4 linked regions of the Homo sapiens genome follow. The protein of the gene in region 1 interacts with the protein of each later gene in a pairwise test. Each region holds a gene or a part of one and is shown in the gene's direction. Other genes may lie near its edges. The genes, in order: EFEMP2, RBP3, DOK7 and RAB40B.

Region 1 (7,647 bases):
TCCTGAGGCCAGGAGGTTTGGGTCTGTTTTTGGTCAGTGCTGTGTCCCTGGCTAGCACCACAGCATCTGCTTCACAGTGGCCACTCAGTAAACATTGTTTGTTTTGTTTTGCTTTGTTTTTTTGAGACAGAGTCTCACTCTGTCGCCCAGCCTGGAGTGCAGTGTCACGATCTCGGCTCACCGCAACCTCTGCCTCCCGGGTTCCAGCAATTCTCCTGCCTCAGCCTCCCAAGTAACTAGGGCTACAGGTGTGCACCACCATGCTGGGGTAATCTTTTTGTATTTTTAGTAGAGACAGGGTTTCACCATGTTGGTCAGGCTGGTCTCAAACTCCTGACCTCAAGCAATCCACCTGCCTTGGCCTCCCAAAGTGCTGGGATTACAGGCGTGAGCCACTGCACCCGGCCGAGAAAACATTTGTTGAGTGAATCAATGAACTTCCTCCACCCACTCACTCATTTGTTCATTCAACTGCCTACTCTGCAGATCCCAGCTGGTACCCAGTAAGGGCTGGGCCATGGGCACAGGGGCCTCACTGCCTGAGAGGAGCTCCCTGCTTGGTAGGAGGGAGACACTGATCCAGTGGTGTCTGGGACCTTGAAAGGGACCCAGTGCAGAGCAGGCGAAGGCAGGGAAAGTCACTGGGGGTGCAGAGGACGAGGGAGGCATTCTGAGGAGGCAACTCCAAGTGGAAGGCTCACTCGGGCTGGATAGTGCAAAGATGGAGGTTCAGGTCTAGGTTGTGCACCAGCTGTGCACTAAGTCATCCCCCCTGGGCCTCATGTCTTCATCTCTAATTGGCAATGACAATTCTCAGGCTGAGGCTTGAGTGGAAGATACTTAGTGGAGCACCCACCACTGTGGCTGGCACAGAGTGGGTGTTTGCAGGGCGGGTCCTTAATGCTCTAATATGGGGCAAGGAGCCCAGCGAGTCTTGAAGTCCGTGGGACATGAGTGCAAGTCCCATCCTTCACCTGGGACAAGTCTCTCAGCCTCCCTATCTGTGAAATGGGGTGATAGCAGCACCCCTTTCCTGCCTTTTTTTATATTTCCTTTTTTTGAGACAGAGTCTTGCTCTGTTGCCCAGGCTGGAGTGCAGTGGCACGATCTTGGCTTACTGCAAACTCCACCTCTCCGGTTCAAGTGATTCTCCTGCCTCAGCCTCCTGAGTAGCTGGGACTACAGGCGTTCGCCCCCATAGCCCGCTAATTTTTGTGTTTTTAGTAGAGATGGGGTTTTGTCATGTTGGCCAAGTTGGTCTGGAATTCCTGACCTTAGGTGATCCACCCACCTTGGCCTCCTAAAGTGCTGGGATTACGGGCGTGAGCCACCGTGCCTGGCCTATTGTGGTATTATTACATACTATAAAACTCACATTTTTTTTTTTGAGACAGAGTCTCACTTTGTCGTCCAGGCTGGAGTGCAGTGGCGCGATCTCGGCTCACTGCAAGCTCCACCTCCCAGGTTCACGCCGTTCTCCAGCCTCAGCCTCCCGATTAGCTGGGACTACAGGCGCCTGCCACCACGCCAGGCTAATTTGTTTAGTAGAGATGGGGTTTCACTGTCTTAGCCAGGATGGTCTTGATCTCCTAACCTCATGATCCACCCGCCTCGGCCTCCCAAAGAAAATTCACTTTTTTGAAGTGTACAATTCAGTGGGTTTTTGTATGTTTGCATAGTTGTGTGACCATCACTACTATCTAGTGTTAGAATATTTTCATTATCCCAAAGAAAACCCAGACCCCATTAGCAGACACTCCCCATTCCCCACCTTCCTCTGGCAACCATTAATCTACTTTCTGTTTTTCTGGGTTTGCCTATTCTGGTTATTTCATATAAATGGAATACGTGGGCCAGGCACGGTGGCTCACGCCTGTAATCCAAGCACTTTGGGAGGCCAGGGTGGGTGGATCACCTGAGGTCGGGAGTTCGAGACCAGCCTGACCAATATGGTGAAACCCCATCTCGGCTAAAAATACAAAATTAGCCAGGTGTGGTGGCAGGCACCTGTAATCCCAGCCATTCCGGAGCCTGAGGTAGGAGAATTGCTTGAACCCAGGAGGCAGAGATTGTGGTGAGCTGAGATCATGCCATTGCACTCCAGCCTGGGCAACAAGAGCGAAACTCCATCTAAAAAAAATAAAAAATAAATGGAATATGTGGCTTTTTGTGTCTGGCTTCTTTCACTTCACATAGTAGTTTCAAGAATTCACCTATATTGGCCGGGCGCGGTGGCTCACGCCTGTAATCCCAGCACTTTGGGAGGCCAAGGTAGGCGGATCACAAGGTCAGGAGATTGAGACCATCCTGGCTAACACGGTGAAACCCCATCTCTACTAAAAATACAAAAAATTAGCCGGGCCTGGTGGCGGGTGCCTGTAGTCCCAGCTACTCAGGAGGCTGAGGCAGGAGAATGGCGTGAACCCAGGAAGCGGAGCTGGCAGTGAGCCGAGATGGCGCCACTGCACTCCAGCCTGGGCGACAGAGCAAGACTCCGTCTCAATTAAAAAAAAAAAAAAAAAAAAGAATTCACCTATATTGTGGCATGCATCAGTACTTCATTAGTTTTTATGGCTGAATAATGTTCGACTGTGTGGATGTACTGCATCTTGTTATTCATCAGTTGACGGCTTTTGTGTTGTTTCTGCATTTGGCTCTTATATATAGTGCAGCTATAAACGCTGCGTACAGATTTGTGTGTGTGTACATATCTTTTCAATTATCCTAGGTATGTATACCTAGGAGTGAAATTGTCAGGTCATGTGATAACATTTTGAGGAACTGCCAGACCATTGTCCACCAACAGTGCATGAGGGCTCCAGTTTCTCCGTATCTTTGCCAACACTTGTTACTGTCTTTCTCGTTTTAAAGAGCTATTATTATTATTACTATTTTTGAGATGGAGTCTCGCTCTGTCGCCCAGGCTGGAGTGCAATGGCACAATCTCGGCTCATTGCAACAACTGCCTCCCGGGTTTAAGAGATTATTCTGCCTCAGACTCCCGAGTAGCTGGGATTAGAGGCACGTGCCACTACACCAGCTAATTTCTTTGTGTTTTTGTAAAGACAGGGTTTCACCATGTTGGCCAGGCTGGTCTTGAACTCCTGACCTTGTGATCTGCCCACCTTGGCCTCCCAAAGTGTTGGGGTTACAGGCGTGAGCCACCGCGTCGGGCCTATTATTATTATTATTATTTTAAGATGGAGTCTCCCTCTGTCACCCATGGAGTGCAGCAGTGTGATCTGGGCTCTCTGCAACCTCCACCTCCCGAGTTCAGGTGATTCTCCTGCCTCAGGCTCCTGAGTAGCTGCGACTACAGGCACGCGCCACCACGCCTGGCTAATTTTTATATTTTTAGTAGAGACGGGGTTTCACCATGTTGTCCAGACTGGTCTCGAACTCCTGACCTCAGGTGATCCACCTGCCTCGGCCTCTCAAAGTGCTGGGATTACAGGCTTGAGCCACCGCGTCCGGCCCCTAAAGAGCTATTATTTAACCTTCTGCCCCAGCAGCTGGGAGGGATGGTGGTGGCAGAGTGGCGAGGAGCGGGCACTGCGCAGTTCACCTGAGCCCCAGGCGCTCGCCGCGGGACCCACCAGCACGTCCCCTCCTCGGCAGACTCCCTCCCCGGGGTCACGTGGAGGGCGACTGCGGGGATAAGCAGGGATGGCAAGGGGAAAGGAAGGGCGGGCCCCAGGCGGGGGATCCCCGGACACGCAGTGCTTTCCCGCCTGGCCCCGCCCAAAGACGTGGGCAAACAGAGGCCACGCCCTTCCTGGGAGCCAGCCCCGCCCATACTCCGCCCCAAGGACACGCCCCCACTTCGGGCGGAGGCGGAAACCGGGCGGGGGACGCTGGTGCGAGGAGGTCGAGGAGGCGCCTTGGCACCCGACTCTGGCATCCCGCACGTCCGACATCAGCCCTGCCCTCCTTCTCAGGGGCTTCCATTCATTTTGTGCCAAAAGGGAACTGCCGCCCTCGCCCCCAAACTTGTAGCTTTGTGGATGGAGGGTGTGGGGGAGGCCGTGTGTAGTGAAAGGACCACCCGGCTGAAGACGGTCCTGGGGGTGGAGGGCAGGAGGGAGCGAGAAGGACAGTTCTGCTCCTGGGAGCCTCTCGTTCCTGGGCGAGGGTCTGGGGACCCTGGATGAAGTTTTAGGATCTTTTACAATGACGGTCTGGGGCAGAGAATAAAATTTTGCAGGGAGCAGATTGAGGGTCTGGAGGACTGGGTTAGGTGGGCTCTAGGTACCCAGGACGATCTCGGGAGGCGCACAATGAGAATCTGGGGGCTCCAGGATTACGGTGTGGGTGCACAGGATGAAATTCTGGGGGCGCAGATTAGGTAGGACCTAGGTGAGCAGGATGACATTTTTGGTGAGCGTCTGGGGGCCCCCGGGTGAGTCTGGGGGCCTGGCATCAAGGTCGGGGCCCCAGGATCGAGCACTGGGGGACCCTGGTCCGGCGCCGGGAGGCGGCTCCTGGCGGCGCCGCGGGGGACCGGGTAGGGGCCTGTGGCTGGCCGGGGGCGGAGAAGCGGGGGGTCGGGGTCCCTCCCCCTGGCGCTGGCTCAGGAATCCGCCGAAGGGCGGGCGGAGGCGCCGGGGTGGGCCGCGCCGCGGCAGGCGGGCGGGCGGGGGGCGCTTCCTGGGGCCGCGCGTCCAGGGAGCTGTGCCGTCCGCCCGTCCGTCTGCCCGCAGGCATTGCCCGAGCCAGCCGAGCCGCCAGAGCCGCGGGCCGCGGGGGTGTCGCGGGCCCAAGTGAGTGGCTGTGACCGTCCGTGGGGGAGGGCGTGGGCCGGAGTCTCGGCCGAGTCCGCGGCAGCGTAGCGCCCACAGAGGCCCGCGCTCCTCGGCCTTCGCCGCAGGGGCGCGGGGCGGGGGCGGGGTGGCCGGGGCGGGTGGGCCTGGGACCCGGGCCTGGGACCTGGGCCTGTGAGGAGTCGGCCCCCAGCCCTGGGAGGCCCCGAGGCCCAAGCACGGTCCTGAGCGGGCAGTGGCGGGGGCTGGGCTCGGGCTCCCGGTACAGGGAGTTGAGGTGCCGCGGGCAGAGGCCCCTGACCCGTGTCCACCATCTCGCAGCCCCAGGATGCTCCCCTGCGCCTCCTGCCTACCCGGGTCTCTACTGCTCTGGGCGCTGCTACTGTTGCTCTTGGGATCAGCTTCTCCTCAGGATTCTGAAGAGCCCGACAGCTACACGGTGGGGACAGTGAGGGCCGCTGGCCTGGGACAGGAAGGGTAGGGAGGAAGAGACCGGGACCCAGGGTGACTGCTGCCGGGGAAGTCTTCCTCCCCTGGCTGGTGGAGAGCTGGGGGCCATTGTTTGGAGCAGGCCGGAGGGTGGCCAGGCTCAGGCCCTAGTCTTGGCCTGGCCAGTTGGAGGAGATCTTAGGGTGACCACTGGCCACTTCTGGTTCCCTTCCAGGAATGCACAGATGGCTATGAGTGGGACCCAGACAGCCAGCACTGCCGGGGTGTGTGTGCCTGGGGGACCAAACACCCCCAGGAACCCGGAAAGGGATTGATAGCTGCTTTCCAAGGGACAGCCCCACCTCCAAGAACTGCCGTGGGAGCCCAGCAGCCCGTTCTATGCCCAGCTCTGCTACACAGAGGCCAGCTCTGGCTCTCTGGAGGCCAGTTGAGCTAGGGGTGGCCTCATCCTCTCCCAGAAACCCAGGAAACCTTGTCCCTACCCCTCAGAGGAGCTGGATCCTGTACGCCTTCTCTGAACCACTCTCCTGTCCCAGCTCTTTGTCTCATCACAACCTGGGAGGGTAGCGTCCCCAGGGGTGGGTAAGGAGGCCCCCCATCTTGGGCTGAGCTAGGGCTAGGGCCGTGGGGAGGGATAGAGACCCACTTGCAGGCCGAGAATGAGGGCAACAGTGGGAACAGCTGCCCCATCTCCAGCCTTGGCCAACCCTGGGGAGGGGTCCTGAGCAGGCAGACTTAGCTTGTTGAGCAGAGTGGGAAGGCTTTGCTGGGGCCACACATCTCAGAGAAGGCCGAGCTGGGTTCCTGCCTCCGCTCCCTCCAGGGCCAGCCCAGGAGACTGGCTGTGCCCAGCAGGCCCCTCTCTGCAGATGTCAACGAGTGTCTGACCATCCCTGAGGCCTGCAAGGGGGAAATGAAGTGCATCAACCACTACGGGGGCTACTTGTGCCTGCCCCGCTCCGCTGCCGTCATCAACGACCTACACGGCGAGGGACCCCCGCCACCAGTGCCTCCCGCTCAACACCCCAACCCCTGCCCACCAGGCTATGAGCCCGACGATCAGGACAGCTGTGTGGGTGAGTGGGGACTGCTCTGGTGCCTGGCTTCCAGTCCTCTCACCAGGCGTCTTAAACTCAGACCTCATGTTCCTCCCCAGCTCAAAAGGGCCACTGGTGATGTCCACACCCTCATCCAGACACTCATGTTGTTTAGGACCTGCCGCAGGTGGCCCCAGCTTGTGTGCCACTGCTCCAGCCAGCTCCGGGCCCCTCCCCTCGGTTGCTGCAGAGACACTGCAGGAAGTCTGCCTTCCAGTGTCTGTCCCCTGGGAGCCACAGGCCTTGGAGGAAGGACAGTCCAGGAATCAGTGTTGCTGGGGATGTTTGGACAGGACCTTATTTCCTGTGCAACCCCCAACATGTGGTTTTAGAGGTTAGGGGTGCCTTTCCTGATGGCTCCAGGCTGGTGAACTCTTACGCGTGCTGTTGAGAGAACCGAATACAAGTGTTGGAACTATCTGTCATGTTGGGTGGTGTGCGGGATCCCAGGCAGGGGCTGAGTGGTGTCTCTCGCAGATGTGGACGAGTGTGCCCAGGCCCTGCACGACTGTCGCCCCAGCCAGGACTGCCATAACTTGCCTGGCTCCTATCAGTGCACCTGCCCTGATGGTTACCGCAAGATCGGGCCCGAGTGTGTGGGTGAGTCCAGGAAGCAGCTTCTGTAGTCCCGGCTTTGTGTCCCTGGTCTGGCCCTTGCCCTAGCACCTGACCCCCATTCAAGCCAGGCTTCACCCCCGGCCCCTGCCACCTCACCCTCCGTCATCAGACACAGAGGACTGTAGCGGGGAGTGTTTGGGAGGTGTCCTGGCTGACCCTGCCTAATTCAGCTCCTCGGACACAGGATTATGGGTGGTGAAGCCTTGAGTCCCAGCCGGCTCGAGCCCACCTGCCCTCTGCCCTCTGCCCTCCGCCCTCCTTCTCCTGCCTCTATCCCTAGACATAGACGAGTGCCGCTACCGCTACTGCCAGCACCGCTGCGTGAACCTGCCTGGCTCCTTCCGCTGCCAGTGCGAGCCGGGCTTCCAGCTGGGGCCTAACAACCGCTCCTGTGTTGGTGAGGCTGGGCTGGGCCAGGCTCCTGGGTCCTGGGCAGGGAGGTGTGAGGTGGGGGCGCTCCCTTCTTGACCAGCCCAGGTAGAGTGGAGGCTCTGGGCTCCTCCTCCGCTTTCATCCCTCCTGTTTTTCCTGGCACCCCCAGATGTGAACGAGTGTGACATGGGGGCCCCATGCGAGCAGCGCTGCTTCAACTCCTATGGGACCTTCCTGTGTCGCTGCCACCAGGGCTATGAGCTGCATCGGGATGGCTTCTCCTGCAGTGGTGAGAGCTCCATCCCTGCTGTGTACTCCTCTGTGGACCCCCAGGCCCTAGCTATGCCGTG
Region 2 (7,165 bases), on another chromosome or scaffold:
AGTTTTGGAGAAAGAAGTGTTTTAGATTTCAGATTCTTTTTGGATTTTGGAATATCTGTATGTACATAATGAGATATCCTGGGAGTGGGACTCTAGTCTAAACACAGTATTTATGCCTCATGTATGCCTTATACGCATAGCCTAAAGGTAACTATATCAATATTTTAAATAATTTTTTGCATGAAACAAAGTTGGTGTTAAGTACTTATGTGTGAAATTTTTCACTTGTGGTGTTGTGTCGGTGCTCAAAAAGTTTCAGGTTTTGGAGCATTTCAGATTTCAGATTTTTAGATTAGGGATCCCCAGACTACATGTAGCCATTAAAAGGATGAGTTTAATGAGTATACTTCAACTGGGAAGGATGTTTGTGTTGTATGTTTAAGTGAGTAAAACAAAATGCAAATTATCATCTATGCTAATAAACGGCTGACAATAGGATGGACAAATGGATGGGGTGCCCATAGATGTGTGGATGGATCTCTCCTATATGTGCACCTCCCTGCGTGTACACAGACACAGGTGACAATGGCTAGACATTCAATGCTGATTATTTGTTACTAAAGGAGGCTGGATTTTAAAAGCTTTGGAAAAGGTTTGTTTGCACATTTCTACAAAAATGAGTATGTTTTACTCCTCTGATTTAAGAAAAAAGTAAAATGAAAATACATAAAATGAATAAAAAGTCAAGGTTCAATTTGCTTTGAAGTGCATTTAAAAATGTGTTGGTTTGCAGGGGAGAGGAGGCTTGCAGGGTAGAAGAGGCTAGTGAGGCGGAGCTGAGATGAGAAAGGGGTAATAAAATGTCTGTGGTAGAATCTAGGGAGGCAGCCATTAAACTAAGGTGGCTCTAACGCCCTGATTTCCTACAAGAGCAAATTGAAATCTAACTCAGACTCATTTACTGTAAGCAGCTAATTTAAAAGAAACCGAAGCTTAAGTCCAGCCAACCACTGATGGCCAACTGGACATCAGTTGCATGGTCTCGAACTTTCCACTAGGATGTCCCAAATCATGCAAGGGCCGAAACGCTAAGCAACCAAAGCATCTGTAATATTTATTCCACTTCTGCCTTCACCCTGTGGAAGCCTCCCCTTGTGCTCCCTTGCAGAGCCCCAAACTGCCTCTTGTGGGGAGCTACCAGATTCATGAATCGCTATCTGCTCGGATAAGTTCTTTAAAATGTGAACATGTCAAAGCATTTCTTTAAATGATGGCATATAGATATTTGCTGTACCACTTGAACATTTCCATTATAAAACATCGAGGGGAAAACTAACATAAAACAATAGACAGACGAGGGCTTTGGCCACTGAAAAGACAACATCTGTGATGCAATAGGCAAGACGCTCCTTCCTGTACTGCCCAGCTCCGCTTGCTCCCTGACCATCCCTGCAGCAGCCCTGATGTGTCATTGTCCCCCTCTTAACCTGCGCTGCAGGTGCTGCAGGGCTGGGCTCTGGAGCCTGGGTCTGGTCATTTCTCCTTAGATATGTAGAGGCCCAGGAAAGGTTTGGAGCCTAAGAAGCCCTAGGACTCCAGGTCTCCAGGGCAGCCCCAGCCTCTTGGAATGACTTTCCCTAATACCACAGGGGTGTTCTAATCCCAGGCAGACCCAAGCTGCCCCTCACCAACTCCTACGTCCTCAACTTCCTTTCATAACTTCTAGGATGGAAACACCTAATCCTCCAGCAATACTGAGGCTTTTCTCCTTATTCTGTTTTCCCTTTTGAAGAAGCCAAGGCTCAGAGCAGTCGAGTCACCTAATCATGGTCTCATGTCGCCTGATCAAGGTCTCATGTCACCTTATCAAGATCTCACCCACTCACCTATTCAGTTCTCACCAGTTCAGTTCAGGATGGCTTCTAAGCTACCCTGCACAGCTCTGCCCACAGGACATTTGTATAAGTGAGGGGGTGCAGGGCCTTCCAGCCCCCTCCAACTCCAAAACTCAGCCCCCAAGATCAAGTGGACTCTCTGAACCCACCCTGGCCCTACAGTTGTCAGGGTCTGGATGGGAAGATGTAGAGCTCTCGGCTTTCACTCTGGGGACTTACCCAGAACATATTCTCCTCATGAGCTAAGGAGGCTGGCTGCCATCTTCCTACATCCCCCCACGGCCTGGGGGCAAGGACACCCTGGCCCCCTGGAGTCTGGAGAACTCTGAGGACAGAACTTGCTCTTCCACCTGCTTGGGCCTTACCCACAGGAGAAGCACTGCTTCTCTACCCATGCCCCATCCAACTCAGGCACCCCAGGGACTTGCAACAGTCTGATTTTTTCTCACGTCCTTCTTAAGGCTCTGGGCTAGCCACACAAATCAAATCCCAGTGATAGGTCCAGACAATCCTATCCTGAAACTACATCTTAGTAAGACTCCAGGGAATCCTTTCCCCAAAGACAGTCTTACTCCTGTTCTCCCCCAAGCCCTTTCTGGGCCAGAAGCTTTGCCTGGACTCAAGCAATGGCAGACAAGTGCCCTCTGAGGACACGGAAGTGCATGCTCAGAACTGTGATTCTCCAAGTGGAGGCAGAGGAGAAGGCCCAGGCTTCCCAGCAGGGCTAAGGATATGCAAGGAGTGCATTCATCCGGAGGTGTTGGCAGCATCCCAGCCCCACCCCATTCTCATCGTAAATCAGGCTCACTTCCATTGGCTGCATACGGTGGAGTGATGTGACCATATGTCACTTGAGCATTACACAAATCCTAATGAGCTAAAAATATGTTTGTTTTAGCTAATTGACCTCTTTGGCCTTCATAAAGCAGTTGGTAAACATCCTCAGATAATGATTTCCAAAGAGCAGATTGTGGGTCTCAGCTGTGTAGAGAAAGCCCACGTCCCTGAGACCACCTTCTCCAGCTGCCTACTGAGGCACACAGGGGCGCCTGCCTGCTGCCCGCTCAGCCAAGGCGGTGTTGCTGGAGCCAGCTTGGGACAGCTCTCCCAACGCTCTGCCCTGGCCTTGCGACCACTCTCTGGGCCGTAGTTGTCTGTCTGTTAAGTGAGGAAAGTGCCCATCTCCAGAGGCATTCAGCGGCAAAGCAGGGCTTCCAGGTTCCGACCCCATAGCAGGACTTCTTGGATTTCTACAGCCAGTCAGTTGCAAGCAGCACCCACATTATTTCTATAAGAAGTGGCAGGAGCTGGGATCTGAAGAGTTCAGCAGTCTACCTTTCCCTGTTTCTTGTGCTTTATGCAGTCAGGAGGAATGATCTGGATTCCATGTGAAGCCTGGGACCACGGAGACCCAAGACTTCCTGCTTGATTCTCCCTGCGAACTGCAGGCTGTGGGCTGAGCCTTCAAGAAGCAGGAGTCCCCTCTAGCCATTAACTCTCAGAGCTAACCTCATTTGAATGGGAACACTAGTCCTGTGATGTCTGGAAGGTGGGCGCCTCTACACTCCACACCCTACATGGTGGTCCAGACACATCATTCCCAGCATTAGAAAGCTGTAGGGGGACCCGTTCTGTTCCCTGGAGGCATTAAAGGGACATAGAAATAAATCTCAAGCTCTGAGGCTGATGCCAGCCTCAGACTCAGCCTCTGCACTGTATGGGCCAATTGTAGCCCCAAGGACTTCTTCTTGCTGCACCCCCTATCTGTCCACACCTAAAACGATGGGCTTCTATTAGTTACAGAACTCTCTGGCCTGTTTTGTTTTGCTTTGCTTTGTTTTGTTTTGTTTTTTTGTTTTTTTGTTTTTTAGCTATGAAACAGAGGTAATATCTAATACAGATAACTTACCAGTAATGAGTGCTTCCTACTTACTGGGTACTGGGAAGAAGTGCTTTACACATATTTTCTCATTTAATCTACACAATAAGTAATTAAGACATTTCCCTGAGGCCACGGGAGAGACAGTGGCAGAACAGTTCTCCAAGGAGGACTTGCAAGTTAATAACTGGACTTTGCAAGGCTCTGGTGGAAACTGTCAGCTTGTAAAGGATGGAGCACAGTGTCTGGCATGTAGCAGGAACTAAAATAATGGCAGTGATTAATGTTATGATATGCAGACACAACACAGCAAGATAAGATGCAATGTACCTTCTGGGTCAAACCACCCTGGCCACTCCTCCCCGATACCCAGGGTTGATGTGCTTGAATTAGACAGGATTAAAGGCTTACTGGAGCTGGAAGCCTTGCCCCAACTCAGGAGTTTAGCCCCAGACCTTCTGTCCACCAGCTGAGAAGGACAAGGGCGGAAGGCAGCTGCACAGAGCAGGGCCACGGCCTTGCACACAGTCCAGGGAGCTTTTGTGCAGGAGCCAGGCCTCCCCCTGGGTCCCCATGATGAGAGAATGGGTTCTGCTCATGTCCGTGCTGCTCTGTGGCCTGGCTGGCCCCACACACCTGTTCCAGCCAAGCCTGGTGCTGGACATGGCCAAGGTCCTCTTGGATAACTACTGCTTCCCGGAGAACCTGCTGGGCATGCAGGAAGCCATCCAGCAGGCCATCAAGAGCCATGAGATTCTGAGCATCTCAGACCCGCAGACGCTGGCCAGTGTGCTGACAGCCGGGGTGCAGAGCTCCCTGAACGATCCTCGCCTGGTCATCTCCTATGAGCCCAGCACCCCCGAGCCTCCCCCACAAGTCCCAGCACTCACCAGCCTCTCAGAAGAGGAACTGCTTGCCTGGCTGCAAAGGGGCCTCCGCCATGAGGTTCTGGAGGGTAATGTGGGCTACCTGCGGGTGGACAGCGTCCCGGGCCAGGAGGTGCTGAGCATGATGGGGGAGTTCCTGGTGGCCCACGTGTGGGGGAATCTCATGGGCACCTCCGCCTTAGTGCTGGATCTCCGGCACTGCACAGGAGGCCAGGTCTCTGGCATTCCCTACATCATCTCCTACCTGCACCCAGGGAACACCATCCTGCACGTGGACACTATCTACAACCGCCCCTCCAACACCACCACGGAGATCTGGACCTTGCCCCAGGTCCTGGGAGAAAGGTACGGTGCCGACAAGGATGTGGTGGTCCTCACCAGCAGCCAGACCAGGGGCGTGGCCGAGGACATCGCGCACATCCTTAAGCAGATGCGCAGGGCCATCGTGGTGGGCGAGCGGACTGGGGGAGGGGCCCTGGACCTCCGGAAGCTGAGGATAGGCGAGTCTGACTTCTTCTTCACGGTGCCCGTGTCCAGGTCCCTGGGGCCCCTTGGTGGAGGCAGCCAGACGTGGGAGGGCAGCGGGGTGCTGCCCTGTGTGGGGACTCCGGCCGAGCAGGCCCTGGAGAAAGCCCTGGCCATCCTCACTCTGCGCAGCGCCCTTCCAGGGGTAGTCCACTGCCTCCAGGAGGTCCTGAAGGACTACTACACGCTGGTGGACCGTGTGCCCACCCTGCTGCAGCACTTGGCCAGCATGGACTTCTCCACGGTGGTCTCCGAGGAAGATCTGGTCACCAAGCTCAATGCCGGCCTGCAGGCTGCGTCTGAGGATCCCAGGCTCCTGGTGCGAGCCATCGGGCCCACAGAAACTCCTTCTTGGCCCGCGCCCGACGCTGCAGCCGAAGACTCACCAGGGGTGGCCCCAGAGTTGCCTGAGGACGAGGCTATCCGGCAAGCACTGGTGGACTCTGTGTTCCAGGTGTCGGTGCTGCCAGGCAATGTGGGCTACCTGCGCTTCGATAGTTTTGCTGACGCCTCCGTCCTGGGTGTGTTGGCCCCATATGTCCTGCGCCAGGTGTGGGAGCCGCTACAGGACACGGAGCACCTCATCATGGACCTGCGCCACAACCCTGGAGGGCCATCCTCTGCTGTGCCCCTGCTCCTGTCCTACTTCCAGGGCCCTGAGGCCGGCCCCGTGCACCTCTTCACCACCTATGATCGCCGCACCAACATCACGCAGGAGCACTTCAGCCACATGGAGCTCCCGGGCCCACGCTACAGCACCCAACGTGGGGTGTATCTGCTCACCAGCCACCGCACCGCCACGGCCGCGGAGGAGTTCGCCTTCCTTATGCAGTCGCTGGGCTGGGCCACACTGGTAGGTGAGATCACCGCGGGCAACCTGCTGCACACCCGCACGGTGCCGCTGCTGGACACACCCGAAGGCAGCCTCGCGCTCACCGTGCCGGTCCTCACCTTCATCGACAATCACGGCGAGGCCTGGCTGGGTGGTGGAGTGGTGCCCGATGCCATCGTGCTGGCCGAGGAGGCCCTGGACAAAGCCCAGGAAGTGCTGGAGTTCCACCAAAGCCTGGGGGCCTTGGTGGAGGGCACAGGGCACCTGCTGGAGGCCCACTATGCTCGGCCAGAGGTCGTGGGGCAGACCAGTGCCCTCCTGCGGGCCAAGCTGGCCCAGGGCGCCTACCGCACAGCTGTGGACTTGGAGTCTCTGGCCTCTCAGCTCACAGCAGACCTCCAGGAGGTGTCTGGGGACCACCGCTTGCTAGTGTTCCACAGCCCTGGCGAGCTGGTGGTAGAGGAAGCACCCCCACCACCCCCTGCTGTCCCCTCTCCAGAGGAGCTCACCTACCTTATTGAGGCCCTGTTCAAGACAGAGGTGCTGCCCGGCCAGCTGGGCTACCTGCGTTTTGACGCCATGGCTGAACTGGAGACAGTGAAGGCCGTGGGGCCACAGCTGGTGCGGCTGGTATGGCAACAGCTGGTGGACACGGCTGCGCTGGTGATCGACCTGCGCTACAACCCTGGCAGCTACTCCACGGCCATCCCGCTGCTCTGCTCCTACTTCTTTGAGGCAGAGCCCCGCCAGCACCTGTATTCTGTCTTTGACAGGGCCACCTCAAAAGTCACGGAGGTGTGGACCTTGCCCCAGGTCGCCGGCCAGCGCTACGGCTCACACAAGGACCTCTACATCCTGATGAGCCACACCAGTGGCTCTGCGGCCGAGGCCTTTGCACACACCATGCAGGACCTGCAGCGGGCCACGGTCATTGGGGAGCCCACGGCCGGAGGCGCACTCTCTGTGGGCATCTACCAGGTGGGCAGCAGCCCCTTATATGCATCCATGCCCACCCAGATGGCCATGAGTGCCACCACAGGCAAGGCCTGGGACCTGGCTGGTGTGGAGCCCGACATCACTGTGCCCATGAGCGAAGCCCTTTCCATAGCCCAGGACATAGTGGCTCTGCGTGCCAAGGTGCCCACGGTGCTGCAGACGGCCGGGAAGCTGGTGGCTGATAACTATGCCTCTGCCGAGCTGGGGGCCA
Region 3 (7,023 bases), on another chromosome or scaffold:
CCCCAGCCCGGGTCTCTGCACTGTCACGGCCTCCCCGGGGACGCCAAGGGTGCGGGCAGGCGGTGTTGGCTGGCGTCCCTGACGGCCACGCTCCTTGCAGACTGCCTGCTGATGCTGGTCTACAAGGACAAGTCGGAGCGTATCAAGGGCCTGCGGGAGCGCAGCAGCCTGACGCTAGAGGACATCTGCGGGCTGGAGCCCGGCCTGCCCTACGAGGGCCTGGTCCACACGCTGGCCATTGTCTGCCTGTCCCAGGCCATCATGCTGGGCTTTGACAGCCACGAGGCCATGTGTGCGTGGGATGCCCGGATCCGCTATGCGCTCGGCGAGGGTGAGTGACGGGGGCCGGGGCCGGGCGGGGGCTCCCCGTTCAGGTGTGCCGGGGCCCCTCACCAACGTGGGCTGCAGAGGTGGGAGCGGCTCCAGGGAACCGTGCAGGAAGATGGGACATTCATGGGTGCCTTAGGGTGGACTGAGCTCCAGCCTGGGGGTGCCCACGAGGGTTTGGGAGGGGGAGTCTGCTGGGCTATGGTGTCTTTAGAGCTCCCTAGCCTGACCGTTAGTTACAACTGGAGCCTTTAACCCAAGCTGGTGGCCTTTGGAGGGACGTGGCTTCCCAAAGCCCTGCCCTTTGCTTCCTACACTGGACAGTGGAGCCCAGAGCCTGGCTAGGAAGGAGAGCCCCAGGCTGGGCGGTCCCACCCCAGCTTCCCCCCAAAACAGGATGGGAGGGAGGGAGGGAATAGAGGGAGGGGAGAGGGAGGGGAAGGGAGTGCTCCCCTGTGGAACTGGCCCTGGAAGAGGTGGAACGTCAGTCCCAGCCCTGCAGGGGCTTCGAATGGGTGCCTGGGGGCCTCTGGGGGCTGAGCTGCCCTGGGGCTGTGAGCAGAGGTGGGTGGTGATGGGGCCCTGGGCACTCAGCGGCAGAGCAAGCATAATCCTGCATCTCCTAAGAAACCAAAATCAGTGCCAAAACCCCATAATGAGCAAAACAGTAGAATGTCCACTGAGTTGAGTCCTGGTCCTACCCTGGCACCCACCCAATAATCCCAGCAGCCACAGCTGCCCTCCCTTTAAAAACTTGCTATTTTAGGCTGGGCACGGTGGCTCATACCTGTAATTCCAGTACTTCGGGAGGCTGAGGTGGGTGGATCACCTGAGCCCAGGAGATAGAGACCAGACCACCCTGGGCAACGTGGCGAAACCTCGTCTCTACTAAAAATACAAAAATGATGGCCAGGTGCAGTGGCTCATGCCTGTAAACCTTGTGCTTTGGGAGGCCAAGGCGGGCAGATCACCTGAGGTCAGGACTTCGAGACCAGCCTGGCCAACATAGCGAAGCCCCATCTCTACTAAAAATGGAAAAATTAGCCTGGTGTGGTGGTGGGCACATGTAATCCCAGCTACTCAGGAGGCTGAGACAGGAGAATCGCTTGAACCTGGGAGGCAGAGGTTGCAATGAGCTGAGATCGCGCCATTGCACTCCAGCCTGGGCAACAGAGTAGGACTCCATCTCAAAAAAAAAAGAGCTGGGAGGTGGAGGTTGCGGTGACCTGAGGTTGTGCCACTGCCCTCTAGCCTGGGCGACAGAGTGAGACCCTGTCTCAAAAAAACAAACACAAAAAAACTTGCTATTTTGATCAGCATGGACTCTGCATAACTTTACTTTTTAAAATATTGATTAAAATATCCTGGCCCTTGATGGCTGAGTTCTTTGGCCTTGGAGGTGAGTGTCCCGCTCCCCCAGTCTTGTCCCCAAGGCAGCAGCCCCTCCTGCTCCATTGAGTGGGGAGAGAGAAGCTGGGGGCTTAGTGGGAGGAGGTGCGGTTGGCTCTGCAGGAGGGCGCAGGGGAAGGAGACATTAGGAGGGAAGAACTGCATCTTTCCAGAAAGTTCTCCCGTTGGGGGTTCCCTCCAGCCTGGCTCAGCGGCATGGGTCTGCTTCCTTCATCCGCTGGCGCAGGGCCATGGCACAGAGGCCGCTGGGCACCGCCCAGGCAGCTTCATCTTGATAGAACGTGGCCTGACAAGGATGCGCCTGAGGCCACAGCTTGGAGCAGGTAGAGGAGGCAGAGAAGGGGGAGGTGGGATGGGAACAGGGGTCCCTTTGGCTCTGGGGGTTGGAGATGGAGCAGGTGGGGCCCCTGGTGGGGAGGCTGCTGTCTGCCTGGTGTGCTGACCTGGGAAGACAGGGGAGGTGGGGACAGCATTCAGGACCACTGTCCTCTCTGAGGCTTTCAGGGGCAGGGGCCTGGGCAGAGCCAGTGCACAGGACCATGGGGGTGCTCAGGGTTTGGGTGAATGGCCACCTGGATGGAGAGAGGGCCGGTGGTGCCCTGAGGTTCCCGTGGCCAGGCTGGGGCCTCGATACAGACTCCAGACTCTCCACACCCGAACTGGAGGCTGGGGGATCCCTGAGCCTCGGTTTCCCCTTCTGTGATGGAGCCACACAGCTGTGGAGAGAGAGCCTTCCTGGAGAGGTGCCGGGGGTGGGAGCCCAGCCAGGGCACTCAGCTGCCCTGTCCTCCCTAGCACCTCCGTGGTGGGAGGGGAGGGAGGTGGAGGTCCGAGGTCAGGCCCCTCTGGGACTTCCTTGCCCCTGAACAAAGATAGTTCCTGGGAGGATGGCAAGGAGAGAAGTGCAGCCCCCAGGCCCCCTCGTGGCTGTGAGGAGTGCCATTTGCTCATCCTGCCGTCGCTGCCTCCCCGGCTGACACCTGGGCGGCTGCCCCCACCTGCCCCAGCCTGGCCCCTGCCCCTGCTGCCTCCTCCCGAGATGCCCTCTCACCCCACCTGTCCACAGTGGCCCCTGTTGCCTCCTCTCATGATGCCCTCTCGCCCCGCCTGACCGTGATGCCCTCTCGCCCCGCCCACCCTCGATGCCCTCTCACCTCACCCGCCCATGATGCCCTCTCGCCCCGCCTGCCCGTGATGCCCTCTCACCCCACCCGCCCGTGATGCCCTCTCACCCCACCCGCCCGTGATGTCCTCTCACCCTGCCCGCCCGTGATGCCCTCTTGCCCCGCCTGCCCGCAGTGCATAGGTTCCATGTGACAGTGGCTCCAGGCACCAAGTTGGAGAGCGGCCCGGCTACCCTGCACCTCTGCAATGATGTCCTCGTCTTGGCCAGGGACATCCCCCCGGCTGTCACGGGGCAGTGGAAGCTGTCTGACCTCCGGCGCTACGGGGCCGTGCCAAGCGGATTCATCTTTGAAGGCGGGACCAGGTGTGGGTACTGTAAGTACGGATGTGTGGGGTCACTGGGCAGCAGCAGCACCCCCCACTTCCCCTGAGAACTGCTGGCTTCGGGCCGGCCGACCCCACTTGCAGGCTGGCCTGCTGGCATTTCCAGAATGCGCCGGCAGGTGGACGGAGTCTCCCCACGCTCGATGTCCAAGGTCCTCTGCCCGCAGGAACCTCAGTGTGGAGTGTCGAGGAGGGGCCTCGGCTACCTCTGCTCTTCCTCACTGGAGGGAGAGAGTTCAGGGATGCGAGGAGGGGCCTGAGGCCACAGAGCCTCAGAGCCGCTCATATCCAGATTTCATGGAAAGGAAAAAACAAAGAACAAACGCATTTAGCAGTGGGGAGTGTGAGCTCCCGCATAAGCACCGCAGAAACATATTCTTGGACCAAGAATTCCTGGTGGACATGCCAGCCACCCCGCCTGTGGGCCGCCCAGAGCTGCCCTAATGTCCCCAGTGAGGTGGCCAGGCCGTGGGTGGGGATGGCCTGAGTCCTCTGGGCCTGTGAAGGCCTGAGAGCTGTCCTCACTCAGCCAGGGGAGTGAGGGAAATCGGAGCAGGAAGGCACCCAGCCCTGCCCAGAGAGTCTGAGGTGCCCGCCGGGGCTGTGCAGGAGCAGGTTGTTCCAGCAACCCCCTCCACTTTCTCCCATGTTGGGTGCAGATGCGCCAGGTTGCCCTGTGGACCTGCAGTCCCCGCGGAGGGTGTGACGCCTCCTCTCTTCTCTCTGGAGGGGCAGCTGCTCATTGGCCGGGCTGAAGGCGGGCAGAGGGACCTCCTGTGGGCCTGGTTTGGGGCTGAGAGGACTGAGGGACTGCACTTGGCTCACACTGGTGGGGGCTCTGGTGGAGCCTGGATGTGTCTGGGTGGAGGAAACGCAGGCAAGGACACGGGCCACACTGGCCGCCTGGGACCTCATCCTGCAAAGGCCAGCTGGGGCACGGGCGCAAGCCCATCTGGGTGCCACGTTCTGCCACCTTCTGCGCTGGGCGCTGGGAGCAAACCCAGTAGGTCTTGTGGCAGGAGCCAGCCCTGTTGGGGCCTTTGAGGAGACGACATCTGACCCTTGAAAGGGGAACAGGGCAGTGAGGCTCAGGCTCCACGGACTGGGGGCGTACACAGCCAGCTGCAGGAGGCACGTGCGGCAGAGCTGGCCCGGAGTCTCGGCCCCTGGGGCTGGCAGGGGCCATAGCCAGAGTCCAAAGGGCCTTGGCCCCTCTGGGATTGGAGAGCCAGTATGGATGGGCAGGGCCGCTGCCTATGCCAGCTGTGAGCTGGTGCGGGGGGTGGGGTGGGGGGTGGTTCCCGGGAGAGCTAGGACACCTGTCGGGGTCCCATCTGCCCCCAGGCCCTCCCTGCGGCAGGCCAGAGGTTCAGTACTGGGGCTTCGGGAGCCACTGGGGAGTGGGTTGGCGGTGGCTGGGCACAGTGGGTGGGCCCAGCGTCCCTGTCCTTTGTCGTGTGGGAAGCCAGAGCTGCAGGCTGTAGTTGTCCTGACACAGGCAGCCTGTCCTGTCTGTTGTGTGCTAGGTTTGGGGGTGCCTGGAGGAGGGGGACCCATACCTTCCTTTCTGTCTGTGGAATTCCTTGGCACGGGCAGGCAGCCGGCCGGGGTGGCGCCGCGTGCTCACCCTCTAAGCCGGGGCACAGCAGGAGGACCCGTTTCCTTGGAGACCTGCTTATTTTGTCTGGGCCATAATGGAATGGGGACACTGGATGTTTTTCCTCTGAGGCCGTGGAGGTTCACATCCCTGCCGAGGTGTGGGTGGCCCCTTTTCCGCTGGTAAACAATCCCACACCTGGGGCTGTGCTTCTCCCCAGGGCGAGGCTACTGTGCCGTTTTCCTGGGCTGCTCAAAAGCTGGGGGCACTCTTGTGGGGCCGTCTGTCTTGCTGCTGCCTCTCCGGGGCAAGCTGTTAGAGCAGCCCCACCCGCAAACCTGCAAACCAGGCTGGCCCCACAGAACCTGAAAACCTGCAAACCGGGCTGGCCCCACAGAACCCACAAACCTGCAGACTGGGCTGGCCCCACAGAACCCGCAAACGGGGGCTGGCCCCACAGAACCCGCCTTTGCAGCTCAGTGCTGAATGTTCTCGTCCCCGGTGGTACCCTGGCCTGAGAGAGGAAGGGCTCTGGGAATTCGGTCACCGACGGCTGCACACCCCGTAGGGTAGGTGGGTTCTGGAGGCCAGGCTGGAAGGCTTGGCCGAGCCACCCATCCCTGTCCCCAGCAGGCCCTGCTGGGCTGTATCCTCCTGGAGACAGGCGTGGCCACCACCCTGGGTGGTTTAGGCTGGGTCTTAGACTCGGCCAAGCGGTGGTGTTCTCAACGCAGCACTGAGTGCAGGCCGTCTGGCTGGAGGGACGGGGAGTCTGCGGCACGTGTGGGCAGCCTGGGGCCTCCTGCGGGAGGGAGCCGGCAACTCGGGTGGTCCAGGGGCAGCGGCATCAGCTTCCTGGGGCTTCTGTAGCAGATGACCCCCAAGAGAGGGCCAAGTGTCCAGAACGGGTTCCTTCTGCAGCCTGGAGGCCAGAAACCCCAAATCAAGGGGTCCTCAGGGTTGGCTTTTTCCAAAAGCTCTTGGGGAGGACCCATGGGAAGGTCCTTCCTGCCCCTTCCAGCCGCTGGTGGCCCCGGCGGCCTCGGCTCGTGGCTGTGCCACTCCAGTCCCTGCGCCTGCTGGCTCCTGCGTGAGCCTCCTCTTCAGTCTCTTGCAGTCTGTGGACTTAGGGCCCACCTGGATGACCCAGGGTGACCCCATCCCGAGACCATCAATTCCATCCGCAGAGGCTCCTGTTCACAGGCCCTGGTATGTGAACACATTTTGTGGGCCACCATTTGGCCGACAACTGGGGCCACTGGGACGGAGAAATATCCAGAATCTGAATCCCAATAAGTCTGTGGGTGTCGTCACATTCAGTCTGGAGGTCACAGCTGGGCTGGAGTCGTGGGAAGGCCCTGGAAGTTCTTGGGTGTAGGAAATCCACATTCCCTCCTTCCCCAGGGACAGGTCCTAGCCTGGCCCCCGATCCCCAGAACCGCCTCACTTGGCCCCGCCACAGCCAGCTCTGCAGAGAGCAGAGAGGGTGACCCTGGCCCAAGGCGATGGCTGCGCCTCACTCATCCTGAGACACTGGGCGTGGCTGTGCATCACGGGGGCCCTGGTGGGGGTCGGGTGGAGACAGGCCTGGCTGGTCTTGGTGCCTGGGGGGCAGAGGTCTCTCTGTGGACAGCTGCCTGTTCAGAATGGGACAGGAGGTGGCTTGGTGACAGCAACCCCCGGGTCCCCAGTGTGGCCCAATTCCCCGTCTCTGTTGGTCACGGGCCTGTAGTGTGGACTCCTGGAGCTTGGCCCGAGCGCACTTGGCACATGGCAGGCGACGGTCTGTGGACAGCTCAGGTCTGCAGGCTCCAGCCTCACACACGGGCAAGTGACTGGGCCCCGCCTTCGGGGATGGACTGTGCGTGGTGGAGAGTGATGCAGAGAGGGCCACTCGCCCTGGGACAGGCTCAGCTTGCAGCACAGACGGTGGTGGGCCCCAGAGAGGGTGAGCCCACCCAGAGCCTAGGAAGGGAGGGCTTTGGAGGCGCAGGGGGACGTTTGAGCTGGGCCTTGAGGGTGAATGGAAGCTTTTGGAGGTGCCCCCTTTTTCCCCCCTTACCTGCTCTCTCCAGCTGGGTCCAGTCCAAGGACCATATCTGCCTCTTTGCCCAGCCTCTGGGGGCCGCCCGGAGCATTTGAAACTCATTTTGACTTTTAAAAATGATTAAGAATGTGGC
Region 4 (6,249 bases), on another chromosome or scaffold:
ATGAGTGCCTGTGTGTGTGTGTGTGTGTACATGTGTGTGCAGGTACGTGCACTGTGCATACGTCTGCATGAGTGCCTGTGCGTGTGTGTGTGCACGTGTGTGCAGGTATGTGCAGTGTATGTGTGCATCTGGGCATGAGTGCCTGTGCGTGTGTGTGTGTACACGTGTGTGTAGGTATGTGCACTGTGTATGCATCTGTGCATGAGTGCCTGCATGTGCGTGTATGTGTACACGTGTGCAGGTACTTGCACTGTGTATGCGTGCATCTGCATGAGTGCCTGTGCGTGTGTTTACACGTGTGTGAAGGTACATGCCCTGTGTATGCGTGCATCTGTGCATGAGTGCCTGTGCGTGTGTGTGTGTACACGTGCGTGCAGGTACGTGCCCTGTGTATGAGTCTGTGCATGAGTGCCTGCTTGTGTGTGTAATGTGTACGTGTGTGCTTGCCTGTTTATGTGCATGCATGTGCACACATGAACTGCGTGTGTGCACTGTGTGTGCATCTGTGCATGAGTGCCTATGTGTATGTGTATGCAACATGTGTGCAGGTATGCACTGTGTGCGTCTGTGCATGAGTACACGTGTGTACACGTGTGCAGGTATGTGCACTGTGTCTGTGCATGAGTGCCTGCGTGTGTGTATGCAACATGTGTGCAGGTACGTGCACTGTGTGTGCGTGCATCTGTGCACAAGTGCCTGTGTGTGCGTGAGCTCCATGTGTATGTGCACGTGTATGCGTGCAATCCATCCAGGTGAGTGGGCCACACTCCTCGAGAGGTGGCGATTACTGCGGTGCCCCTGCATCCTGTGTTCCTGGAGTGGCTCGTGGGTGTGAGTTCTAGTCCCCAGATCACCGTGACATTTGAGGGTTTATCACTGAGCTTATGAAATATCACTGAAAATGATCATAAAACTGCTACATTCAGTTGATAAATCAAAATTATGTACTTTGTGTTAAAATAAGGAAAGTGGTTATTTAGTTGTATGTCTTTGCGTGCATGGCCACAGCTGTGCCTGCATCTGTGTTCTGCGTGCTGAGCCTGTGACCTCTCCCCCAGGGTGTGATCCTGGTCTATGACATTGCGAACCGCTGGTCTTTTGACGGCATTGATCGATGGATTAAGGAGATCGATGAGGTATGTTGTAGAAATGCCACTGCCCAAGATCCCTGTAGGCTTGGGAGGACGTCAGGCCAGGAATTAGGGCCGGGCCCTCCAGGGCTCATGGGTACCCATGGATCACAGGCCAGGGCACCGGATGGCGCTCCAGCAGGAAGGAGGGTGCCTCACCTCGGCACAACACTGGATAGGGCTTTGGTGATAGCTACAATCACGAAAGCTCAGGAAGCTGGTCCAGACGAAACGAGCGTCCACGGCGTACCTCGGCTATGCGTGGGGTCAGGTTTGGCCTGCTTCACTCCCTGCTGTGGTCGGGCTGGGCTGACCAGCAGTGACCGGCGCTTGTGCCTGCTGGCACGCAGACCAGCCCGCCTGGCAATGGTGACATGGCGTGGTCGACACTAAGCCCACTGTATGAGTGTCCCGGGGCTGCTAGAACCGACGACCACAACCTGGGCGTCCTGAACAACAGAAATGCATTCTCTCACGGTTCTGGAGGCCAGAGCCCAAAACCAAGGTGTCGGCAGGGCCACTTCCCTACAGCCGCCTCTCCCAGCTCTCGGCGGTGCCAGCAACCCTGGGCCCTCCCTGGCTTGTGGCTGCACCGCTCCAGCCTCTGCCTTCGCGTAACATGGCCTCCTCCGAGTGTCTGTGTCTTCTCTTCTCCCAAGGACACCAGTCATTAGATGAGGGCCCTAATTCAGTGCGGCCGCACCGTAACTATTTACGTCTGCAAAGACGGTCTTTCCAAACGAGGTCCCATGCTGAGGTTCTGGGTGGACATGAACTCGTGGGGGGTTCCTCGACCCAGAGCACCCACATTACGACGACAACAAAATCTCACTGAAGTAACCCATGCTCCTCGCCTTTCTCCTGCCCGCTAGCATGCCCCCGGAGTCCCCAAGATCCTGGTGGGGAACCGCCTGCACCTGGCGTTCAAGCGGCAGGTGCCCACGGAGCAGGCCCAGGCCTACGCCGAGCGCCTGGGCGTGACCTTCTTTGAGGTCAGCCCTCTGTGCAATTTCAACATCACAGAGTCGTTCACGGAGCTGGCCAGGATCGTGCTGCTGCGGCATGGGATGGACCGGCTCTGGCGGCCGAGCAAGGGTAGGCCCAGGGGCTATTCCGGGGGCCACCTCTGCCCTCCAGATGCCGAGGTGGGTCAGCGGCCCCCTGGATAAGTGTCTGCCTCCCGGGACCCGTCTCAAGGCCACTGTGTCCGTTCTCAGAGCAAGGCATTTGAGAGAAGTAATGACTACAGCTTTGTCAGAAAGCTCATGAGGGAGCTCCTGGGATCTGTACGTGGGCAGAGGGGACGTCGCGGCAGGGCTTGCTGCATGTACAAGCCAGGGCCACGGGCGTCCGAGCCTTGGGAGGGCGGGAGAACAGGTGTGGGCACCACCCCTCATTCCCAGCCCAGGTGGGGACATCCACTAAGCAAGGTTTATCTTTTCTCTCCCAAGTGCTGAGCTTGCAAGACCTCTGCTGCCGGGCGGTCGTGTCCTGCACGCCGGTGCACCTGGTGGACAAGCTCCCGCTCCCCATTGCCTTAAGAAGCCACCTCAAGTCCTTCTCGATGGCCAACGGCCTGAATGCCAGGATGATGCACGGCGGTTCCTACTCCCTCACCACCAGCTCCACCCACAAAAGGAGCAGCCTCCGCAAAGTGAAGCTCGTCCGCCCCCCCCAGAGCCCCCCCAAAAACTGCACCAGAAACAGCTGCAAAATTTCTTAAGGAAGGCACTGAAAGAAACACGGCGGAATCTCTCCAGGAGAAGCTCGGCGTTACCCCCGGCAGCTGGTGGATGCATCTCAGATCCCGGTTCCTCTCGGCGAATGCTGCTTGCGAATGTGTGCGACGCCTTCCGTGTGATGGAAACACACTACCCCGTCGGACTTCGAATTTCTACGTGGATGTGCATGAAGCTCTTGTTTTCGATGTGTGTTTGTAAAGGGAAAATTAGTACTCTGCTCGACTCTTGGTAACATGAAATTCTGAATGTTACTTTATCATGATTGCACTGCAACTTTTTCCTTAAAATAACTGCTTTTGTAAGAACGGTGATATTGGAGTGATTAGTATAAATTCAATGGAATTTGAGAAGCAATGGCAGCGGGATAATTTAGAGTCACTGATATTACGAGAGGGGTCTTTTTGTAAACCTCCTTTTCAATGTCAAAGCGCCAATTTATAAAACGCTGCAGATGTAGAGGTTATGTGCAACTGATCTGTCCAGTTTGTGTATGAAATGGATTTGATAAAGTTTTTGCTAGTTATTTACTACATTTTGGGATTAATAAGTGATTTATATGCATATTTTTCTGTAAATCTACAGTTTTTTGTACAAGATATTCTACAAGTTATGAAGCTAAGGGAAGAAAATGCCAAAGATACCTCTAGTTATGTTGAACACAGCCAGCACAGTTTCGACATGTCAAGGAAGAGCTGTTTCAGTAAAGAATGAAGTGAAAACACTTATTTAGGAAAATGTTTCTCAACAATAAAATGTATAGTTGTTTCTCTCTTGGTAGAGTTGGCGACCGGTTCTTTCGAATTTTGTATTTATTTATTTATTTATTTTTGAGACAGAGTTTCGCTCTTGTTGCCCAGGGTGGAGTACAATGGCACGATCTGGGCTCACCACAACCTCCGCCTCCCGGGTTCAAGCGATTCTCCTGCCTCAGCCTCCCGAGTAGCTGGGATTACAGAGGTGCACCACCACGCCCGGCTAATTTTTGTATTTTTAGTAGAGATGGGGTTTCACCATGTTGGTCAGGCTGGTGTTGAACTCCTAACCTCAGGTGATCCACCCACCTTGGCCTCCCAAAGTGCTGGGATTACAGGCGTGAGCCACTGCGCCCGGCCAGATTTTGTGTATTTCTTATAGCCCTTTACTTCACTGCGCCACTGCCTGGTGTAGACATCACATATCGGAGCTAATACACGACACTGGCAACAAGGCTGAATCCTTGAACTGTTGTCGCCTGTTGAGAAAGGATTCCTTTTCCGGAACAGAAGTGCAGAGGAGGAGAGAGCGGAGAGTTAAAAGCTGGCACCCAGGCATGTGCCTGTCTGAGAAATCAGAGCCGTGCTCCTGAGCCTCGGTGAGGAGCTCCGAGGGGCTGTCAGGAATTCCGCATGAAGATGTAGCCCCTGACCCCGACTGCCTCAGAGCAGGGCTGACCGCAAAGACCTCCAGGGCCGCTCTCTTCCCTGGTCACACTGTTGAACGTTTCTCTGTGGCTGGGGGTCGCAAATGAGGGACTAAACCAAAAAAACGAAGCGAGAAAATACCCAGATGTTCCTAGTTCCTGCTGATGATCTGTAGATTCTTAGAAACTTAAGGGACCCAGCTGGGTGTGATGGCTCACACCTGTAATCCCAGCACTTCAGGAGGCCGAGGCAGCCGGATCAGAGGTCAGGAGTTCAAGACCAGTCTGGCCAACGTGATGAAACCCCGTCTCTAATAAAATTACAAAAATTGGCTTGGCATGGCAGCGCACACCTGTAATCCCAGCTACTCAGGAGGCTGAAGCAGGAGAATCACTTGAACCTGGGAGGCAGGGGTTGCAGTGAGCCGAGATCGTACCACTGCACCCCAGCCTGGGCGACAAGTGAAACTCCATCTAAAAAAAAAAAAAAAAAAGAAATTTAAGGGACCCTAGAATCAGGGGCAAAGCCTGTATTCAGAGATGGTGGAACCGAGGCCCAGACAGGAGAGAGGAGCACTGGTCCCTGCGGGTGGACCCAGGCTTGGGGGTGTCTGGCCACCTGGGCACGGCAGCCACGGGGACAAAGTCCACGGGGAGGCAGGGGTGTGGTCTGTGGGCAGAAGGTGAACCCTGAGGGGACAGTGTCTGGAGAGGGTGGCCAGCCTCGTGCAGGCACGCTGCAAAGACCTGTGCACCCTTCTCTCTGCTGTGCCACAGGTGGGGTGAGAACGACAGGGCCGACCTCCCAGCTGCAAACACAAGGACACTGAGATGCACAGAAAGGAGAGTCCACGTTGAAGAAACCCACGTTGAGGGGCCTCTTCTCCCTCCGTTCCCAGCTCGCTGATGGTGAAGGGTAAGGAAATGGATCCTCCCATTGCAACATTAAACCAGGCCAAACCTGTATTTTTCTCTTCCTTCCTTTTTCTTGTTTTGTAATTGATGTCTCCTCGGGACTACTGATAATGTCCTAGAAAGAATAAAATAAAGTTTCCCAAGGCTTTGTGACTCAGAGCTCTTTGGAGGTGTTCACCGAATGCACGGGCCGCCCGGAGGCCTTGGCCCTCCAGGGAAACACCACCAGAAGTCCCCAGAAGCGGAACATGTAGCAAGGAGGCTCCCCGAGATCTCCCAGAGGGAGCACAGCCCTGCCAAGTTATTGGTTTTGGACTTCCGGCTTCCAGAGCTACGAGAAAATAAATATTTGTTATTTAAGTCACCAGGTTTGTGGCGATTGTTACGGCAGCCTCAGGAAACTCCTACAAGGAAGTGAGTTACGCTCACGGCAGAAAGTGCTACAGCAAACCAAGGCAGAACAAAAACAGACGAAACCTAATACAGACCGGACTAAGTAGAAGACTGTGTGTTTGGGTGGTGAATATACAAAAAACATAAATATAAATTAAACCTTAGAGAAACTTTGTCATTTTCTTGTCATGTTCAGAGGTGTGGCCTGTTGCTTTAGATCTACAGATTCTTACACACTTTCTTCTCTTAAGAAAGGCTGGCACCTGCCTTTTAAAACCACTGTCCTGGCAGGGCGCGGTGGCTCATGTCTGTAATCCTAACACTTTGGGAGGCTGAGGCAGGCGGATTGCCTGAGCTTAGGAGTTCAAGACCAGCCTGGGCAACATGATGAAACCCCGTCTCTACTAAAAATACAAACCACTAGCCGGGCATGGTGGTGCACGTCTATAGTCCCAGCTACTAAGGAGGCTGAGGCATGAAAATTGCTTGGACCTGGGAGGTGGAGGTTGCAGTCAGCTGAGATTGCACCACTGCACTCCAGCCTGAGTGACAGAGTGAGGCTCCATCTCAAATAAAAATAAAACCACTGTCCCTACCCTGCCGCAGTGCTGAACTCGAGCTGATACTGGTTTTTCTCCTCTACATTCCCATGATGACAGCAAACCCCGCT

What was found.
Region 2: the proteins of EFEMP2 (region 1) and RBP3 interact in binary tests that used the Homo sapiens proteins (3 or more experiments, as listed by UniProt).
Region 3: the proteins of EFEMP2 (region 1) and DOK7 interact in binary tests that used the Homo sapiens proteins (3 or more experiments, as listed by UniProt).
Region 4: the proteins of EFEMP2 (region 1) and RAB40B interact in binary tests that used the Homo sapiens proteins (3 or more experiments, as listed by UniProt).

Annotation. Positions count from the first base shown.
Region 1 is NC_000011.10:65,869,796-65,877,442, reverse strand, and holds the start of EFEMP2 (EGF-containing fibulin-like extracellular matrix protein 2 precursor), read left to right. Parts: upstream 1-4,642; 5' UTR 4,643-4,760; intron 4,761-5,081; 5' UTR 5,082-5,088; coding exon 5,089-5,199; intron 5,200-5,424; coding exon 5,425-5,473; intron 5,474-6,079; coding exon 6,080-6,286; intron 6,287-6,784; coding exon 6,785-6,907; intron 6,908-7,205; coding exon 7,206-7,322; intron 7,323-7,466; coding exon 7,467-7,586; intron 7,587-7,647. UniProt on the Homo sapiens protein: Plays a crucial role in elastic fiber formation in tissue, and in the formation of ultrastructural connections between elastic laminae and smooth muscle cells in the aorta, therefore participates in terminal differentiation and maturation of smooth muscle cell (SMC) and in the mechanical properties and wall integrity maintenance of the aorta.
Region 2 is NC_000010.11:47,344,198-47,351,362, forward strand, and holds the start of RBP3 (retinol-binding protein 3 precursor), read left to right. Parts: upstream 1-4,165; 5' UTR 4,166-4,287; coding exon 4,288-7,165.
Region 3 is NC_000004.12:3,473,306-3,480,328, forward strand, and holds part of DOK7 (protein Dok-7), read left to right. Parts: intron 1-100; coding exon 101-331; intron 332-1,634; exon of another isoform or gene 1,635-2,453; intron 2,454-2,995; exon of another isoform or gene 2,996-3,036; coding exon 3,037-3,237; exon of another isoform or gene 3,238-7,023. UniProt on the Homo sapiens protein: Probable muscle-intrinsic activator of MUSK that plays an essential role in neuromuscular synaptogenesis. Acts in aneural activation of MUSK and subsequent acetylcholine receptor (AchR) clustering in myotubes. Induces autophosphorylation of MUSK.
Region 4 is NC_000017.11:82,654,467-82,660,715, reverse strand, and holds the end of RAB40B (ras-related protein Rab-40B), read left to right. Parts: intron 1-1,058; coding exon 1,059-1,136; intron 1,137-2,002; coding exon 2,003-2,225; intron 2,226-2,581; coding exon 2,582-2,853; 3' UTR 2,854-5,743; downstream 5,744-6,249. UniProt on the Homo sapiens protein: RAB40B small GTPase acts as substrate-recognition components of the ECS(RAB40B) E3 ubiquitin ligase complex which mediates the ubiquitination of target proteins.